Linked DNA regions of Homo sapiens: region 1 is linked to region 2. Evidence: fine-mapped expression QTL. A gene starts in region 2. The other region holds a variant in brackets. All regions are shown on one strand. Distances are between the middles of the regions. Region 1 overlaps PTPRO (protein tyrosine phosphatase receptor type O). Region 2 holds the start of PTPRO (protein tyrosine phosphatase receptor type O).

Region 1 (10,515 bases), 230 kb after region 2:
AAATACCACAGACTGGGTGGCTTAAACAACAGAAATTTGTTTTCTCACAGATCTGGAGTCTGGAAGTTCAAGGTCCAAGTGTGAGCAGAGTAGGCTTCTCCTGAGGCTTGCAGATGATCACTTTGTAACTGTGTCCTCACACGGTCTTTTCTTTGTGCTTGTACATCTCTTTACTGTTTATATTTCCTCTTCCTATAAGGACACCAGTCTGATTAGATTAGAGCACGTGCTAACAGCTTCATTTAATTTAATCACCTCTTTAAAGGCCCTATTCATCCTGGGTGTGGTGGCTTACGCCTGTAATCCCAAAACTTTGGGTGGCTGAGGTGGGTGGATCACTTGAGGTGAGGAGTTCGATACCAGCCTGGCCAACATGGTGAAACCCCGTCTCTACTAAAAATACAAAAATTAGCCGGGTGTGGTGGCAGGCACCTGTAGTCCCAGATACTCAGGAGGCTGAGTGGGAGGATCGCTTGAATCTGGGAGGTGGAGTTTGCAGTGAGCCAAGATCATGCCACTGCACTCCAGCCTGGGTGACAGAGCAAGACTCCACCTCAAAAAAAAAAATAGTCACATTCTGAGGTACTAAGGGTTAGGGTTTCAGCATATGAATTTAGGCGGAGGGGATATAATTCATCCCATAACAAAGATAGAAAGCAATCAAAATGCCTTTGATGTCATTGTATTCCCTATCATATGCAATTGCCTAATTAATATTTAGCCACTATCTACTTTAATCTTGTGCTTCTGAGAATGGAAAACATGAGTCATGTAAACCAGGGGTGTCCAGTCTTTTGGCTTTTGGCTTCCATGTGCCACACTGGAAGAAGAATTATCTTGGGCCACACATAAAATATGCTAACACTGATGAATCAAAAAAATTTCACTAAAAGTATCTCACAATGTTTTAAGAAAGTTTATGAATTTGTGTTGGGCTGCATTCAAAGCCATTCTGGGCAGCATGCGGCCTACGGGCCATGGGTTGGACAAGTTTGATCTAAACCATCTTAGGCTGTGGCACTGAGCTGGCCTTGACTTCTCATGAGAAGTGGGAACCCCCTAGCCAGTTTTTGCCAGAAATTTCCAGACTTCTACTCTAGGCAATAAGAAGAAATGCTCTAACTCAGTACTATTCATTTGAAACATAATAAGGGCCACATGTATAACTTTCAATTTTCTAGTAGCCACATTAAAAATTAGTAAAAAGAAACAGGTAAAATTGAATTCGATATACTTTATGTAACCAAATATATCCAAGGTCATATTGTTCCAACATATAATCAATATAAATAATTATTAATAAGATATTTTATTCTTTTCTCACACTAGGTCTTTGACATTCTGTCTGTATTTTACATTTGCAACACCTCTCAATTTGGACTAGCCACATTTCAAGTACGCAACAGCTACATGTGGCTAGTGGCTGTGTTGGACAATTCACATTCCGATTCTTACATTTTAAAACATTTCCTGGGACAGTTGTTGTCTTGAGTAGGAAAATCTAATTATAAGCACTCCCAATTCAATTATACTTTCACTTGTGAAATCTTGTAATAGTAATAAGTTCATAATTATAATAACAATAAATTGTAATAACTTTCTTTGTTTCCTTTGGGATACCAGAGTTAAATTTCTGCCTGATTAATTTAGGGAAGCACACCAATCACGAAGATCCTGAACAGTCCTCAAGCAGGTGATTTATGTATGTATTCATTGACCTATAGAGCTGACATGTAAACGTCTTCCAGAAAAGTACACAGTGATCACAGGTGCAGGGACCTTGAAATAATCTATTGCCCTCATATTCCACCCAAAAAGAAAAATTTGTTACGTGGTTGTTAGATGTCCCAGACCTTTAGGAGATTTTCCTGAGGATCTTATCACCTAGAGCCACATTCTCAGCCAGAACAAAGGAAACCCTCACTGCAGTATTCATGTCGTATTCCTTGGACCACTGGGAGCTCTTGCAGTAATTCATGATAGTTCTTGACTTTGCCCCTGAAATTGGATAATTTTACCTACATAAAAACAGAAGAGAACATTAAGATACAACCTCAGCGTGTCTGGTCTTGCCTGGTGCTTGAATCCTCCTCTTTTGGTTGATGAATCTTGACTCATGTTTTAAATCAGCCGATAAATAAGATTTTTTGAGTACCTATAGGTGGCTACTTCAAATGAAGACAAAGTCATTTATAACACATGACCCTTGTTCTTAAAGAATCTAATAGGATCTACTAGAATCAGGCCTTCACTCACATAGATTATATAGGAAATAATTAAAGGCAGTAGAATGTCAGAGAAGGGATAAATCATTAAGAGAAAGAGTCACCAAATGAGACTTCAAGGAGGAGGTAAGACTTTTTCTTGACCTTCGAATGAGCAGAATAAAGAGCATACTGATTGAAGGCAAACATGGGCTGACATAGAGCACTGCCCTGAAGTTCAGTGAGAAGACTGTCTTTCCCAGGAGGCAACACATCTGTGTGTCAGGAATGGTGGTGAAGCTGGTTGGATAGCATGCAGCCAGTTTAAGCAGGATCTTAAAGACATGGTATGTTTGGATGTGATACCACAGACAATGCACAGATAGGATTTAACATGAGTGAAATGGCATTTTAAGGTGATTTTAATCCGTTGTTGACAAAATGAAGAAAGAATTGATTAGAGCCAGGGAAAAAGAGGCACAGCAAGTTTGTGATGATCAATGAATGTGATCACAAAAGTCTAGACATGCAATATAATTTAAAAATAGATTAAAGGAGGCCGGGGGTGGTGGCTCATGCCTATAATCCCAGCTCCCAGCACTTTGGGAGGCAGAGGCAGGCAGATCACAAGGTCAGGAGATCGAGACCATCCTGGCCAACATGGTGAAACCCTGTCTCTACTAAAAATACAAAAAAATTAGCTGGGCATGGTGGCATGCGCCTGTAGTCTCAGCTACTCAGGAGGCTGAGGCAGGAGAATTTTTTGAACCCGGGAGGCAGAGGTTGCAGTGAGCCGAGATTGCACCACCACTGCACTCCAGCCTGGTGACAGAGCGAGACTCCATCTCAAAAAAAAAAAAAAAAAAAAAGATTAAAGGAAAAGGTAACGAGTTTTTAAAAGATATGCTCTCTGGGACTGAGAAATAAGGGAAGAGCCTCAGAATTGTGACTGAGGAACAATTCTGTAGTGTGCATTTTTAAAAAAGAAAAGCCTAGGCTCAGCCTAACTAATCATTCATCTATGCCCCCAAACAACTTCACACTTGGTTCTATAGATTCAAGTTCCACATGAGTCAGAATCCCTAAAGGACATAATCCTATTAGCAAAGGCAGTTATAAAGGAAGTGAGAAGTGGAAATTGACCTCTGTGTTTCATTAGCAGTCTTCCTCAGAGCAGAAGTGGGACAATACAATGCCTGGAGGACTGGACAATTCATTGCAAGTGAAAAAGGGCTCCTGACACCTATTGTGAATTTTGCTTGCCTAAGAAGAACTCATCTCTTTCCTCCTTCAACTCTTCTGCCTAACCTTGTCAAGTTGCTGCAGGAAAGAAACATGCTTCTTTTTAGTTGGACACAAGTTTAGGAGATCTGTGATAAATCATGGCAAGAATGATTTTGACATACTTCTTGGTCCTGGGCAGAGTCACAATGATGATATTCTAGAAACAAGGTTCAAATCTTTCCACACAAAGATGTGTACCTGTCAAAGCAGTGAAATGGCTGACAGGACTTTTTCAAGCACCTCTAAAGGACAGGAGCTGGAGAACAGACTTAGGAGAGTGGGGCAGAAAATGAAAAATCCAAGTAACAAGCAGGAAGAAACCTACAACAGTGGGTAGTCGTCTGACAGGCGCATATAGGTGGATGGAGGATGCTGTTATGTGAACCTAGCAGCAAGGTACAATATGTCCAAATAAGCAATGTCAGGGGGTCTGAGAGCAGGTAACAGGGACCCCAGCTTAAAACCTTGAGTTCAGGCACAGCACTCTGCATACTGGGGGACCTAGAGGGAAAGACAACATCCAAAAGACAGGGTCACAAGCAGAAGACCAGGAGACATTCAGGAATGGAGAATGAGACAGCAGATGACTATTAGAATTGAGGAACAGGCAGGGTTTTTTGGTCTCAAGAGAGCAATGCCAGTGACTCAATTACTAGAAATAAGTATGAAAAGGACAGACAACACAGCTTCCTTTACGAATGGATTTATTTATTATTAAGATAAAATGTCTAAGATAAAAAATTTATCTAATGTTTTATTAATCTTCCAATCCCCTCCTATCAATTCTTTTCTTAAAAAATTATATTATCAGCCAGGCACGGTGGCTCACACCTGTAATCCCAATACTTTGGGAGGCCAAAGTGGGTGGATTGCTGGAGCCCAGGAGTTTGAGACCAACTTGAGCAACATGGCAAAACTCCATCTCTGCAAAAAATGCAAAAATAAGCCAGGTAGTCCCAGTTACTTGGGAGTCGAGGCAGGAGGATCACTTGAGCCAGGGAAGATGAGGCTTCAGTGAGCTGTGTTCGCACTACTGCACTCCAGCCTGGGTGACAGAGTGAGACCCCCGCCTCAAAAAAAAAAAAAAATGATACTATCTGTTTAGCTTTATCTTTTTAAATTTTGACTAAATTTTCAAGCAGCCATTTTTCTGTCTGAATTGTTCCAGATAGTTTCCAGAGAAAGGAAGACAGGTTGTTGGCTAAATACCAAACTGCATCTCATCATTAGAAGGAA[G/A]CACACCAAATTTCATTTTTCTCCACCTTTATTAAGTGCAGATTTTTGTTTCTCATCCAGGAAGTTCTGTATTATCAGGGCAATGCTAACTTCAGTATAAATGACACAGAAACTATTAATAGATTATGACTATGATGAAACTGAAGTAGAAAACAGAAGTGTTCTGAAAAGAGAAGTAAAAAAATGGAAGGGGGAAAAGGCAAAGTATTCTGCCTTCCAAGTTAGATAGCTATCTTTATGAAAGGACATATTTCAAAGGCAATATAAAGTCTTTATGGTGCTCTTACCTACCTATATTTGAATTGGGGGATGCTTCACCTGCTTATTAGTGAAAGAAGAAAGAATACACTTAGTAAATTAAATTTTTTTTAAAACTTTGTCTTTGCTCAGAACCAGCTCCACCCAAATCACTCTTCGCAGTGAACAAAACCCAGACTTCAGTGACTTTGCTGTGGGTGGAAGAGGGAGTAGCTGATTTCTTTGAAGTTTTCTGTCAACAAGTTGGCTCCAGTCAGAAAACCAAACTTCAGGTACTGTACCTTTTGATCTACCTTTTCTCAGTTAACTTAAGTAAGGCTAATTATCTGGGCAAAATAAGAATCTTCTATTTCTTTGAGCTATATAAAATGAAAACTGTTTATTTGCTCTTTTGTGTTTCACTGATAGAAATTAACAGCAGGCTTAGACCAAGCCCAAAAGTTGTTATGAGAACTTTTATCTTTGTCTGTATCACTTGTTCCTAATTCATAAGTCACTCCAGGTCAGACAAAGGAATAAAGGTAGTAGGCCATTGAATTGATCAAGGGAAGAAAGACCCTACAATATAAAATATAATTTAACAAATATGAACCATTTGCCAAGTATATAAAGGCACTGAATAGAACACACATGATAGAATCAATATTTGCCTTCAAAACATTTTTATATGGTGTAGACATTGCATAAGTATAGAAAAAAGTAAAGTAAAATATAAGTACCACAAGACAGGTCCATTCGACCAAGAGAATTTAAAAGAAACGTGCATATCTAGTTTGTAAGGGGGACAGTCTTATTGCAAAATGAAGACTGAGAGAAGGTTATTGCTAAAGCTCTAGAATTACAAATGGCAGATACGATAAACAGAGTTATTCACCAGGTCAGAATGAATGAAAGGAAAGAGATGAACCTGCAGTTCTATGAGTGGCAACGCCACAAGGAAAAAATATTTCACAGCCAGAAGTGAAAGGAAAAGGACAGATTTGTTAGGGATTTTACATAATATAGTGTGTAGACTAATACTGCGAACATAAGTAATTGATCTTTTTTAAATAATGAAGTTCATGAGATTGAGAAGAAAAAAGGAATGCTGGGAGTGCAAATCTTTTCATATTGAATGCTAAGATAATTTGCTTTGATTCCTTTCTCCTTTTGAGATTCCCTTCTATGAATGTATCTCTTGTTGATTTGTACTGAACAGCTGAATTTTCTCTATTCTAAGAATCCTTTTGGAAAATAACTGCTCTGCCAATAATGGATTTTCTTCTCTATAACTACAGTGATGCCTTCCTTTAAGAAAACAATGGTTAGTTAGCTACTTACTACAACTGAGTCCTGTTAGCAAAAGTCTTTCCTTAGAATAATTCTTTTATAGAATAGTGAAAGAGAAGGAAGTGGAAGAAAATGCTGATGGCTCTCATTTCTTTATGCAAGGGTGTTTCAAAATCTTGTTTTGAAAAAAATGCTGGCTCATCTTTTGCTGTTGTACAGTAGTACTTGTCACTAGTCTGGCCATGGGTCCACCAAGTTAGCAACTTCTTTGACTCAAGAATAAGTTAATACTAAATGTTTCTTAGTGCGGATAGTTGCCATGTTTTAGTGGATGTTATATAAAAGCTAAGAATGCAGACAAAGGTGTAGTGTCCTTAATATATAAAGAATTGCTACAAGTCAAAAAAGGTAAAGGTCAACAACCCAAAACAAATATTTCATAGAAAAATACAGAAATCTCTTGAACAGATGAAAACTTCAGCAACCTCACTTACGGTAAAAAAAAAATGCAAAATAAAACTACAATATACAATTTTCACTAGTAATAATGGGAAAGCTCAGAGTTTGCAAATGTATGGTACTGGAAAGAATGTAGGGAGGCAGGCATTGTCACGCATTGATGCCAAAGGTGAGTAACTTGCAAAATGTCTGTAGAGAACTATTTTTCTATAGCTTTCAAAATTTTAAATGTACACTTTTTGACTCAGCAGTTCAAAGAATGTGACACTAGCAAAGAATATATGAGTATATGTGTATGTGTGTACGTTCACACATATATACATATTACATGCATATATTGTGTGTATATATGTGTGTATATATATGTGTGTGTGTGTGTGTGTGTGTGTCTATATGCATATGTGTGTGTCTTCCCAAATTTGTGAAATGAAGTTCATTGTAGCATTGTTTGCAATAGCAAAAAATCAGAGACCATTTACACATTCATCAACCGGGGCTCATTAAATAAATTATGGTATGTCCTTTCAACGGATTTCTGTCCAGCTCTTAAAAAGAATAAAACAGCTTAATCTGTACTGATATGGAAAAAGCACCAAAATATATTGATAGCTAAGGTAAAAAAATTAGCAGAATAATGTGTAGGCTAAGCCATCACTTATGTTTTTTAACTGTGTCATATATGTTCATACATCCATAAAATGCATATGGGAAGAAAAATAATGCCTGACAACATGGAATAATGCTGCTTCCATGGAAGGGAATTGGTCAGATGGGGAATGGGGAAAAAAGGAAACATTTTTCAATGCTATTCTTTGTCATCTTATACATTTTTTACTCTGTCAATCTATTACCAACTCAACTATGAAATATATTTTTAAAAAATATAGATGAAGTTAACCTAAAATTTACCTTATTTTCTGAAACCCCAGGAACCAGTTGCTGTTTCTTCCCATGTCGTGACCATCTCCAGCCTTCTTCCTGCCACTGCCTACAATTGTAGTGTCACCAGCTTTAGCCATGACAGCCCCAGTGTCCCTACGTTCATAGCCGTCTCAACAATGGGTAATTATACACATTAGTGTATAATTTTCTCACTTTTTTTGAATATATATATATATATGTATTTGTATCAATATTCCACCAAGAAATCCCAAGCTTCGGAGTCAGAGAGTCCTTAATTTCAATCCCAAAGTGCACTTACTAGCTATGGAGTTAGAGAAAGACATTTGGTGCCTCTGAGCTTTTCTTTCATCTGTAAAATTGGAATAATAATATGTAACTTTCTGAGTTGTTTTGAAGCTTAGAAATAAAATACTTAAATCCTTAGTATATGCTGTCTAAATGCTAGTTGCTAACTCATCTCATCTTCTTCAGTAATAGGCACAGTACTCTTATCAATCCAATTTCATCTATTTAGCCTTGGTCTTCATCTGTCACCGATCAGAGAATGACATAATTGATAACTGGGTCAAAGCAAGAAAGTTTCCAATCCAGCCAAAAGTATAAGTGGGAAAATTAGAGGTTAATGAAAGGTCTGGAATGATGCTGTTTATTTCCTTATTCTTTTCTTAGTTGTATTACATGTGTTACTCCTGGTTTGTTAGAGTCTGATTCTGCAACCTGAGACCCTCTATGAAGCCTCTTGTAATAAAGTCACTCATAACTTCACTGGTTTAGTTCCATTTCTGTAATATTAGTCATATATTTAGCTGCTAAATTCAGGGATGACTGGAGCGGACTGTTTTCTTTTTTCTTTTTCTTTTTGGTTTTCTGTTTTTAATTTTTGTTTTTTCAGAAGAGAGGACAAAAAATATACCTGCAAAGTATTTTAATGGTCTCTCATTCCTACATCCTTGTACACTTTCTAAAATATACAGTTGACGATGAATAATGAGAGACTTAGAAGTGCCAACCTCTGCATAGTTGAAAATCCATGTATAATTTTTGACTCCCTCAAAACTTAACTACTCATAGGCTACTGTTGACCTGAAGTCTTACCAATGATATAGACAGTTGATCAACACATTTTTGTATGTTATACTTATTATATATTGTATTCTTACAATAAAGTAAGCTAGAGAAAAGAAAATGTTATTGAGAAAATCGTAAGGAAGAGAAAATATATGTACTATTCATTAAGTGGAAGCAGATCTTCATAAAGATCTTCCTCATGGTCTTCACATTGAGTAGGCTGAGGAGGAGGAGGAAGAGGAGGGTTTGGTCTTGCTGTCTCAAGGGTGGCAGAGAGTAAAGATAATCCATATATATGTGAACCTGCACAGTTCAAACTCATTTTGTTCAAGGGTCAACTGTACCTTAATGTCCATCATTCCTTGTCAGCTCCATGACAATGTAGCATAACAGGTGATATTATTAAACTTATTTATAAATGAGGAAAATGAGGCCCATAGGGCAGATGAAATGGCTTCTCTCCAAATAGCAGTACTCAAGCGAAAAAGCTCTTCTGATCATGCGTCCATTGTTCTTTCTGTTTAAGCACTCTACTCATAAACTGGAGCCAAGCTGGCCCAAATGGGAAGTGGTAAATACCCAGAACCTTAGGGATCAGATGCACCTGCTCATTCTGTGACTTTATGATCAATGCAAAAGATGGTATGAGTCCTCAGGCCCATTTTAAAGAGTTTTATAAGAATATTAAACCTATGTTCCTGCCTTTGATATCCTGTTCTTCCGTGTAGTATGAAGAAGTAGACAATGTGTAAGTGCCACAGGAGACAAGTCTTTATATAGAGTACATGAAAAGGACGTGACCCCTGTTCTTCAGGGCCCTACAACCTATTAATAGGTTTTATCTCTTGAGCTGTGCAGATGGAAAACCCCTAAACATATGGCCACGGATCATCAGAATGTCTGCTTCTAGTAATGTGTTAAGTGCTTCAGCAGATGGTAGTTTGCTAATGTCTTTTTGATATACATTATTAGTTGTAAGCAAAGTATACAGTTGTGCTTTCTGACTTCAAAATCATGGGCGTAAAATAAGAGGTTGCCACCCTCTAAGCTTGTGAAAATGTTAAAAAACGATAATGCATGGTAATGACTTCCACATTTTTAGCTTTCAAATGAATTTAAACTGTGGCACAGGTATTCTTCATTCTTTAGTTTCCCTATGTAAGAATATCCTGAATGTTGTAGGCCTTTGAAAGGGACTCAATTCTTCCAGACACCTCAATACCACTTATCAGTCTAGTTTGCTAAGTTACAGTTGACCAGGAAGAGGTCATTGCTGGCTTGGGGAACATGATTGTTACTATTATTGGTATCATCGTAAGCTCACTGCCCTTAAGACTAGATGAAAAGCAATGAATGGTTCTGTTTGGTTCCCTGTAAGAGAACCTATGATGAAAATGCACAACTTATCTCTTTAGTTACAGAGATGAATCCCAATGTGGTAGTGATCTCCGTGCTGGCCATCCTTAGCACACTTTTAATTGGACTGTTGCTTGTTACCCTCATTATTCTTAGGAAAAAGCATCTGCAGATGGCTAGGTAAGTTAAGTTTTACTAATATTTTATCCGGAATCTTTAAAATATCTTTATCTGCCATATATATATTGTTTTTGCACACCTAAGTTGTATAGCGGTATATTGGATTTTAGTTTTCAGTGTCTGTTTCTATTGTGTGTGTTTTCTAAATAGACTTCGAAACATTATATTGGAAAATATTACCATTGAAATGAGAAAGCAAAGGATTGCTTGTTTACACAAAGTCAGACCTCTTGCTATCAATCTTGGCATTTGAAGTAGCCCATATATGGAGATCCATTACATTTGGGTACTTTCATAC
Region 2 (10,515 bases):
CAAAAAACAGGGTTGTGTAAGGTTACAGAAAGTTGGAGAAGAGAATGCTTGAGGAAGGAGGGAACAGCCAACATAGCATACTCTCCCAAGAGGTTCCTAGTGGACTTTGGTGAGAGCAGTGCTCAGGAGATGATGGGAACAGAAGCCCTACAGAGTGGTTTGAAAAGCAAGTAGAAGCTGAAAAATATGGAGACAGAGTATACACGACCATTCAAAAATCATCGCTGTGAACGGACGGTGGCAGTGGTGAAAGAGAGAGAGAAAGAAAAGGTTGCGGCCAAGGACAAGCAGGGCCCAGTGAAGACTTTCTTTCCTTCAGTTGTAAAGTTATGAACATGGTTAAAAACCCAAAGGATGGAATCCATCAAAATAGCACAGAAAAGGCTGGAAGTAATGAGCTCCCGAAAATAGGTGGTAAAATTTTCTTTATATGGTCGTTGAGAGGGAGAGAGAGACCATTCCTTGTACTCAACAAGACAGAAATGAATTGAATATGGGTTGGAATTATGTTTACTGTCAAGGAAGATAAAAAAGTTGTCACCTCTGTTTCCTCTCTAAGGTAGAAGGTGAAGCCAAAACACTGAAAAGTTTTCCAGGGCAGAGGGTTGAAGCTTTGAGATGAGTAGAAAAGGCAGAAAGTGGTCACTGTAGAGTGAGATAGTGAGTTAACAGAGAATGGCCATAGGCTTCACATATGTTGATCCCTGATCAGATTTCACTCAAATCATCCTCTTGAGATACATTAAATGCTTACTCTTATAATTTTTCCACATTATCAAATTATTAACCAAAACAGGTGAAATCTCTACATATAACCCCCACTCCCAAACTGCTTCTCTTACAGATATTCACACTAAGCAAGTGTATCTAGAAATGTGTGACTTTCCTGTTTTGCCTTCTCTTTTTGTGTTTTGATGAGGAGGATGTTTTAGTTTTCCCTTGGGCACTTCATTTTCTCTAGAATTACTGTGCCTTCTTTAAATTTTTTCTTCTATGTCCCTCTGCTAAGACAGGTAATAACATCAATCTATCAGTGGCATCCCCTCATCTCTTCAGAGTATGGTCTTCTTTACCCCTTCTCTCACAGTTAAATTTGAATATATCATTAGCTTTGTAATTTCAGCATAAAATTGATTTGGTGTGATTGATTTGAAGTATGATTGTCAATGCAATGTTGTTATACCTGCTATAGTACTATAACTGCTGAGGTAAAACCCTTAGCAGTTAAGGCAGTGGATTTTCAAAATATGCGATTAATGTTTTCATAGTTTTTACATAGCACCTGAAATCACCATCACCAAATTTTTCATAATTAGATATTGGTAGCTGTTTTTAAGTGGCACATATGTAGGCACTATGTGTGACACTGAGTTGACTGTAAATGTTGCATTGCACCTTTAATTTGAGGGGAAGTAAAGAAGGAAGGGAAGGAAGCATCAGCAGATACCATTTCCACTTAGCAAACACTATGTCTTGCTTTAGCTATAAATTACACTCAGGTTCTATTCTTGCTTTTCATGCCAAGCTAAAGTGAATCACTCAGTGCAGTGATGCTAATACTTTAAATTATAGTTAGCCAAAAAACCTAGTTATGAAGAAAAGCTAAATTAGTAAATGATAGCAATGTCTGGAACATTCAGAAAAAATATTTTAGAAGTTCATTAGTCAAGGCATTTCATATAAATAAAATATGAGATAAAATCATATAACTTAAGGCTAATGCCTTTTATTAAAGTTTTAGAGCAATTAAATGAAATGCTAGCAACAAACAGAATCCTAGTATATGACTGAATGAAGGTATAATATCTAAAAACACGACAATCTGCATTTCTAATGTAGGGCTGTTTATCCTATAGCCTGTAATTTGTGTCCAGTGATATATATCTGCATATCTGCTCACACTTTCTATGTATGTTTCCTTATTTCTTTAAGTATATAATTTTGTGTTGTAAGACATATCTTGTAATGCAATATTCTTATTTGATTTTCTTTAAGACATGTAAGAGTCAAGTACAAGTAAGATAGGTCTCTTAATAGGAATCTTTTGCGGCGGGAGAGGGGAATATAATGGGAAAAGACTCTCCAAGTAAAAGCAAAAATGACCTTCTTTAGCGTATTTCCACTGTTTTTCAAGTGCAGCAAGAGTAATAAGTCTTGGCAGTTGGAACATGCCATTCACCTGAGGGCTGTCAATCGTTCTCATTTTGAAAGACACAAAACTTATGAATTGTCAACACATCATTTAGGTGAGAAACCAGTGCTCATCAAGAGAAAAAATTAAAACAAATGCTCAAATAAATAGAAAATCAAAATGCTTCCTGGTCATTTTCTTCCAAGAGCTTAATACAGATAATCTACAGTTCATATGCTATAAAAATTGTAACATGTGAGATATGGACAACAAACTGAATGGCTATTACTTTTCCAATGGAATAGAGTCTAGAGAACAATTGCTTGAATTTTTCTTTCTATTCCATATAAAGTAAATTATTTGTCATTGAGCATCCCCCATAAATACAATTATCTAATACTGAAACTGCTGACAGCCTTGTAGGCTATTTCAGTAGTGGAAGCCAGGACTAAACACACTCAACTACATTAGAGGTTGTCCCTGGAGGACAGAATTGAGCTTCATTGGCAAGGGCACCGTAAGAGTTCCATTTGACTCCTCATTAAACCTCTCACAGGGATTCTAGCTGCTTCTCTGTGTCTGCGCTTGCTTTTCTATAGAAGAGATAGATGTGAACCACGTAGGCAAAGATACATTTCTACATATTTAGGAAAAGATCGCTTTTCTTGGTAAAAACTAAGCCTCCTATAGATTTTAAAAAGACCTTCCAGTTTCATGATCATTAACCACCTTTTTATAATTTTCAAAGGAAGTAGAGAGCTTTATTTCAATTTGTGAGAACTTATTTTTCAATGCTTGTTTTATGGCATGTCAGAGATATTATTATTTTTCTGTGTTTATTTTTTCTCCAGGAAAAGTAGCATTAGGGGAAAACAGTTGGTGATAATGATCTCAGCCTTCTTTACCTAACAATGTGGTTGTCATAATGAAATCTGGACCAATATGTAGAAGCAATTGGTGAAACATAAATTACTATATGCACTGTATGTTGCCCCTGGCTGTTTTGTTGATTTGGAGTCTTGAAAATAGCATAATAAGATTTATCATACTTTGGAAGTATTGTATTGAAAAACCAGTCAATAGCTCAAAGAAACACAAAACATGCTCTATGAATTGAAAACCCCACACTGTGGATGACACAGCATTCACATTCTTTATGAGAATCTCTTCTAGGACACTGTTATGGTTTAAGTGCAATAAAAACAAATGAAAGTATTTTATCCAGCAATAGCAATGTAAAATACTTTTCTCTAGAGAGGAAATTTTCTGTGATTATAAAATAATACTTTCAGTCTTCAGCCCATCTAACCACAATGTTACTAATAAAATAACAACAATGCCAATTACTAATGCTTTACTACTTACTGTTTACTGTTATTGTTCCTCCAAAGTGGTCCACATAATATATATATATATATATATATATATACATATATATATATATGCACAAAGACAGAAAGAGCTGAACAAATTGTGATGTATGACTAAGAGAAAAACAGAAAGACGCAGCAGAATATGATTATTTAAAAGGGAGCCTCATTGTGAAAGTTCTTTTAGCATTTACAAGATTAATTTATGATCAGAACTGCTTTAAACGCCCTACGCACATCAGGCAAGGCTATATCCATGTATACACACAGACATATGCATACACACAAATGAATATCATCATACAGACCCATAATTCACAGACACATTTTAAAATTAAATGCTACTCCAAAGAGAAATTGTTGGCATCCTGTGAGTGTGATTGTTGCCCTTGGCCTATATATATCTTATGTTCTAGAGATTAGATCACTTTACAGCCACTTCTGAGGGCGAGTGGGAATAAAATGCTGCTTCAGGAGCGTCAAAATAAAAAGAAAACATATTAAACCAAAGTTCCTATAAGTGCAATCCCAAGGATTAAATGTTCAGATAGCCCGTAAGTCTAACCCAGAGGGAGGGAGGAGCAGTTAACATTTTCTCAAAAGAAAGAAAATGTCCAAACCAATGATGAGTGGACATGAGGGACCTGAAGAGAGCATGTGATGGGAATGTGAAAACAAAAGAAGCTTCTAAAAGAAGACACCAAGGATAATATTCTCACAAAAATTCAGACCATCATTCTATATTTTCATGCATATGAATTTTGGTACATATTTCATGCATATGAAATTTGGTACATATATACATATATGTACCATGCATATACATATGCGTACATATACATATACGTATGCATACACATATGTATCTATGTACACACATACACATATGTGTACACACATATGTACATGCACACACATATGTGTACACATATGTACATGCACACACATGTGTGTACACATATGTACATGTACACATATGTGTACATGTACACATGTGTATATATACATATTCACACTTATGTAAACATATTCAATCTAAAGCTTCCTTAAGACACATACAAACAACAACCAAATGATTAGTGTTTGGCCATTGCTCATGCAGCAAAAGCTGAGTAAACACAGCTCTGGATCCTTTTCTCAGGCCACCACTCCCTAGCTGTGTGACTGACAAAGTCTATGCCTGAACACCTACATTCATGACCAGGGTGGCCTTTCCTGTCTCCTGTTGCCCAAGCATGTCTCAGGTATAAATAAGTTCCAATACTGACAGGGCACAGCAAGGGTAATTTACATGACAATAAGAAATGATTTCTATCTGAACAGTGCATACCAGAGTTGATTTCGACAGACTTATCTTTAAAAAAATACACATAACAAAAAAGGAGACAAGTAGTAGATTGGGGACCCACAGCTTGAAAGTCGTTGCTTGTGATTCTAAAACATCCCAGTAAAATTATTCACAGATAATTGTTTAAAAATATAACTGTACATACCGTTGACACTTGGACAACACAGAGAATCACGTAGTTGAAAATCCACATATAACTTTGAACTCATCAAAACCTTAACTACTAATAGCCTACTCTTGACCGGAAACCTTACTGATAACATAATAAACAGTTGATTAACACACATTTTGTGTTGTATGTATTGTATACTGTATTCTTACAATAAAGTACGCTAGAGAACAGAAAATATTATTAAGAAAACCATAAAGAGGAGAAAATACATTTATATTCATTGAGTGGAAGTGAATTATCATAAAAGTCTTTAACGTCATCCTTTTCAGGCTGAGCAGGCAGAGGAGGAGGAAGAGGGTTTGGTCTTGCTGTCTCAAGGCTGGCAAAGGTGGAAGAAAATCTGCATATAACTGGACCCAACAGTTCAAACCCGTGTTGTTCAAGGGTCATACATGTAAAATACTGTGATTTTTCCCCCTTCTATATTCAGCTTCAGGTGACCCGACACACTTTGGTATCAAAAGAGAATCTGAAATGTACAAGAACTGCGGATTTCAAATGGAAAAGGTGCATAATTGTGCTATTTGTTCCTGGGTGAGTGTGGGACGGAGACGGTGAGAGTGTTGAAATGGGATGGAGATAATGGAAGCAGTGGGGAAGGAGAGAAAATACCCTTCCTATCACACACACTCACACACTCACACTACACACTATTTCTACAGTCACAACTACCCAACTGTTATTGATCCTTTATAACTGCAATTGAGTACAGATGTAGGAAGATTGAGAGGGAACTGGGATCTGGCGCCTGGATTGCTCAAGAGAGGTCAGGGAAACCCCTCAGAACTCCTGAGACCCAGAGATTGAGGGAGGGGTTGAGGCGGAGTCTGCAATGGGGGCTGTCCAGCAGTAGCAAGCAGCGGGCCGATCCTGGTGGAGGGTTGGGAGGCTGCTGTCATTTTATGGGTCGGCAGCCAGAGTGAGAGTGTCCCTGCTGCCAGAGGACTACGGCGGGCTGGGCGCGGGGTCCCCGCCTCTCGCTCACCACACAGACCCCGCGCCTCCTCTGGCAGCCGCGGTGGTGGCGGCGGCAGAGCCTCGCCCACTCCAATCCCCACCCTCTCCATCCTTAGTCATTAAAGAACAGCAGCGCCTGGCACGTTCTTGGAGGACCCCGGGCGCAGAGGAGGAAAGGGAGCAGGCGCAGGGGGACTGGAAAGGCAGCATGCGCTCGCCAGGAGCAACCTCGGCGCCCAGGGTCTGAGGCTGCAGCCCCAGTTCGCCATTGTGAGCCGCCGCCGGGGGAGTCCGCTAGCGCAGCCGTGCCCCCGAGTCCCCGTCCGCGCAGCGATGGGGCACCTGCCCACGGGGATACACGGCGCCCGCCGCCTCCTGCCTCTGCTCTGGCTCTTTGTGCTGTTCAAGGTAGGGGAGCTCCTCCACCCCTTTTTCCCAGCGGTCCGGGCGGCAGCCGCGCTCCGGCGCCCTCGCTCTGCCGTTGGGAGCGGCGCGCCCCAGGGCACGATGGCCCAGCCGCGGGAAGCGCCTGCCGTGCAGCCTGGGCGCACGCTTTGTTGTCCTCGCGTGTGCGTGTTCCTGGTGGTCTTGAGAGGTAGGGGGCGGGGGGAAGAATAAGGGAAGTTTGCTCCCTCCGGCTTTCGCCCTTTGTGCTCTTTTATCGCTGCTGAAATCCACATCAAAGGTGGGCTTGTTGGATCGTGCTTTCTCAGGCAAAATGAGGTCACTTTCTTTTCTGGTTTCCACTGCACCCCAACGCTGCTTAACCTTTCCGCCCTCCCTCGCACAGAATGCTTTGTCTTAATTTTCCTTACTGCTGGAATTATACACTGGAGAGTGGAGGGGGACTGAGCTCCCTGGACACAAATGGACTGCCAGGGCTACGTTAGGGCAGAATTTTCTTTGAATAAGGAGTGTCAGGTAGAGAGCTTGGTAAGGATTCCTCTCCCCAACTCCTATCAACATCTTTACAATTCCTTTTAAAAAGTCTCCAGACTTTCTCCACTATATTTACAGATGATATTACCCCTAGATTTAATGGTGGAAAAATATATAATAATAAACTTTTTCGTATCTTCTTTGGAATGTGCTACCCTGAGGTTTTACTTTGAGAAAAATGAAAAGCAAAGGAGTTGCTTTTGAAAAATCAGTTTGACAACTATACTGTACATAAATTTTTTTGAAGAAATGTCAGCTAGATGTTTTCTTGGACGGCGATGTGAAGTTCTGAAGTGATTGTCTATCACTCATGTCTTCAGTGGATCTACTTTAGTTCTGTTGTTAGTCTTTTCCTCTCTCCGCAAAGCAAACTCAAGAATGTCGACAGGTGACTTGGAGCTATCCTTTCAGGACCACAGTGATACCTTCCCTAGAAATGGATGCCAGGTTAATGGATCCAAAGGTTTTCTTATTATAGAGTCACTTCTTGCTTATATGCACCATTAATTATGAATGCCTAAAAAGAATATAATGGAACAGGACCAATGGATTAAGAACAGCATTACTTTTAAATACTCCATATTTTCATTTATCTTAATGAAAAATATAAAAAAAATTCAGGGAGAAACAGCAACAGAATGCCTAAGTAAGACCTTAAAATATATTTAATATGTTTTAACATTTTTTCTTAAATTATCAATAATCATTAATTTTAAAGTATGGTAAATAATAAGCTCAGTTATATGTTTTTACTGTAGGAGGTTGTTCTTTCATACACATCATAAATGCATTAGACTTATTAGGTTGTCTATTAGTCGTTTTCTAACTATTTATCAAACTGTCACAACTATTTTACCTATGCAATAATTGTCATGAACCAAAAATTAGAAACCAAGTCACTATGCATTTTACGAGCAACAGCTAAGAGTTATATGTATGACATCTGATCCAAACCTAACGTTTAGCACAACTGCAGGTTTTTGCGTGAGTTCTTCATAATGAGATAATTCCAGAAATAAGAGAATGACTTGGTTGGGAGTGGGGGTAAGGTTTTGCAATTAAAATAAAATAAATGTGGCCATTGTTTGACTTAAAACTCGATATTGGAATGAGAAAATGCAGTTAGTGATGGTGTAATGAAAATGTTAGTGATTGTCATAGAGGTCCAGCCTGCTTCACATAATAGGTATATTCCTGAACATTGCAGGTAAATGTAAATTATGGCAAACTGCTTCCATAGTAAATACATTGGCAAAGTTTGCCATTTAAATAATAATTATTGTAGTGGGACACATAATTTTGTAAGAAAAATCATTTTCCTTTATTTTATGTGAATGTAATATTTTTGTCACCTGAATATAAACTATATCAGAGGAAAGAAGAAAAAACTGTATATATTAAATACCTTCTATGTGCTGGTTTTTTAGGCATTTTACATACGTTATTTCATTTAATCCTATTTTGCTGCAGTTGACAAGAGTTGTTCAAAAAAAATGGTAAATTGGGCACACAGTGTAATATCTTACATTTAGAGGATAGTATATTACATGGTGCGTTGGGCACATGGTATAATCTCTTTATAATTTGGAGATATTTTTGAATTAAAGGTCCTGATTAAGTGCCAGTAAAACAGATCTACTCAAGCAGGTTGTGACTGGAGGATGAGAAAAAATTCATTATTAAATACCAAACTGCTAACTGTATCTCAATAATAAAATCCAAAATGTTCCACGTGTGCCGAGTCAGAAATGAAACATTCTCTCAACTCTCCCTTGCCAAAATAATTTCCATAGTTTTCACTATAGTTAATACATTTTTCACTACTCCATATGTGTATCCTTTATATAAGAGTGAAAATTCTGAAGGAAAATAAGACAGAGAAATTCAAGTATGAGGCTTAATTTACAGCTTTACATTTTCCACAACTCAAAAATAAGCAGCTGGATATCAGTGGTGGAAAAGTAGGAAAGTTTGAATGTGTATGAATGGCTATAATCAGTTCCATTGAGGGAGACTAAATGTGACTGGCCAAGAAGGTCTTTGTGCCATCGTTCCTTATCCATGGAGCAGTGATGAGCACATATAATCGGGCATCTCAGACTGTCTAAATCATTCACTGCACATTATGAAGCTAATATCTGCATAATTTATCTTGCCTAAACACAATGTTGGTTATGAAAATTTTTATTTTTATATCAATATTGATGGTGTATATAAAATAGAAGAAAAAATGGAACTCTGTTATTATATTGAAGGCTACTAATTTCAAAGTCTTCTATGGATGAATGCAAGTGAGGTATTTATCTGGCGAGCCTCGCTGTTGTGTGTCTTCCCATAATTCCCAGTGAAAGAAATGTAACTTCCTACACTTGTCCTATCTTTACTAAAGCCCTCCTAGAAAATGTCTTCCTGTATCAGTTTACTCAGTATAAGTACTTTGTCTACTAAGGTGCAAATCGTGGAATATGACATCATAGGAATTTGAAGTTGGCCTTCCCTGAAATGTTGCTTTTTAGTAGTCAGCTGGAATATATTCCTAAACTCAAGTGCTTGGCGTGTGTCCTTCTTTTTTAACCCCTTCTCTCTATTTCTTTCTATTTCTGCTTTTACCAGAGATATCATCAAAGAATATCAAATTTAAAAAGGGTCTTAATATTGTACTTTCTGAAACAGGTTTATATTTAATTCTATAATACATGAGTGTTATGATACTGGCCATTCTACTCTTATCCAGGGGAAATATCTGTTTTCCACGGTCTGTCTGCCTTTCCTTTCCTATGTCTCCCCTCGCAACCCCATACACACACACAAAGAAGTTTCACTTTTCGTGGTTGAGGTTTCATCCATAAATTGCACAGTGTTGGCAGGTGAACCATAATCCTTTCATTTTGCTGGAGCAGCTTAGATCCTTTCCATCACAATGAAGTTTGCTGCCCTTAACTCCCATGTCATCTGACTCCTTTAATAAATCATATTGCCAACCTTTTGGAGAAACCTTTTTACATGTGACATCCCCAGTAGGTTGGCAAAGGCTCCCTGGGCCATGCTTCTACAGATGATCGAGTAATAATCCTTCCCACTGTGAACATATGTTTCCTTTTGTTCTTTGTTTTGTGAGAGACTATCGTTGTGTGAAGGAATGAAAAATTCACATTACACCTCTGCCTCATTTTGGCCCAAAAGAAAATGCACATTTATGTGGATAACTGATTAAAAACAATATGAGTTGTACTTTATTTTAAAATGTAACACTATTTCTACTATCTAAATATCCAACTTAAAGGTATTTAAACGTATAAGCAGATTTACTCCTGAACCTTATAAATATAATTCTAACTTGAGGGGTTGTAAAAGAATGTTTGATGTCAGATACAGTTGATGCACTTAAGTAAAACATTGTAATTGGTAGCAGTGTGGCACAATAGAAGGCTTAACAACAATGACCACAAGTTTTCATTTTCCCCTAATTTAATGCCTCTCCGTACACAGTTTCAGTGATGTTGCATTTTCAGAAACATATCCCAGTGCAGTGATGAGCTTTACTGTAAAGCACTTAATGTTTTCATTTAATTACTCCAAATATGTTGTAAATATTTTT

What was found. PIP is the estimated chance that this variant, and not a neighbour inherited with it, causes the effect.
Region 1: its variant is fine-mapped to the expression of PTPRO in whole blood (INTERVAL, PIP above 0.99). The same link has a PIP of 0.9 or more in blood mononuclear cells.

Annotation. Positions count from the first base shown.
Region 1 is chr12:15,541,455-15,551,969 of GRCh38, forward strand. PTPRO (protein tyrosine phosphatase receptor type O) reads left to right here. Exons shown (of 27, transcript NM_030667.3): 13 at 5,115-5,254; 14 at 7,640-7,772; 15 at 10,097-10,217. It overlaps LOC105369672 (a long non-coding RNA gene), which reads right to left. Exons shown (of 3, transcript XR_002957403.2): 2 at 1,854-2,018; 3 at 1-192. Among named protein-coding and RNA genes, the nearest start is that of PTPRO, 220 kb to the left of the region's middle. The variant G/A (reference allele first, on the strand shown) is at 4,725.
Region 2 is chr12:15,316,416-15,326,930 of GRCh38, forward strand. It overlaps PTPRO (protein tyrosine phosphatase receptor type O), which reads left to right and starts at 6,093. Exons shown (of 27, transcript NM_030667.3): 1 at 6,093-6,386. The coding sequence starts at 6,312. All of the region lies in intron 2 of LOC105369673 (a long non-coding RNA gene), which reads right to left.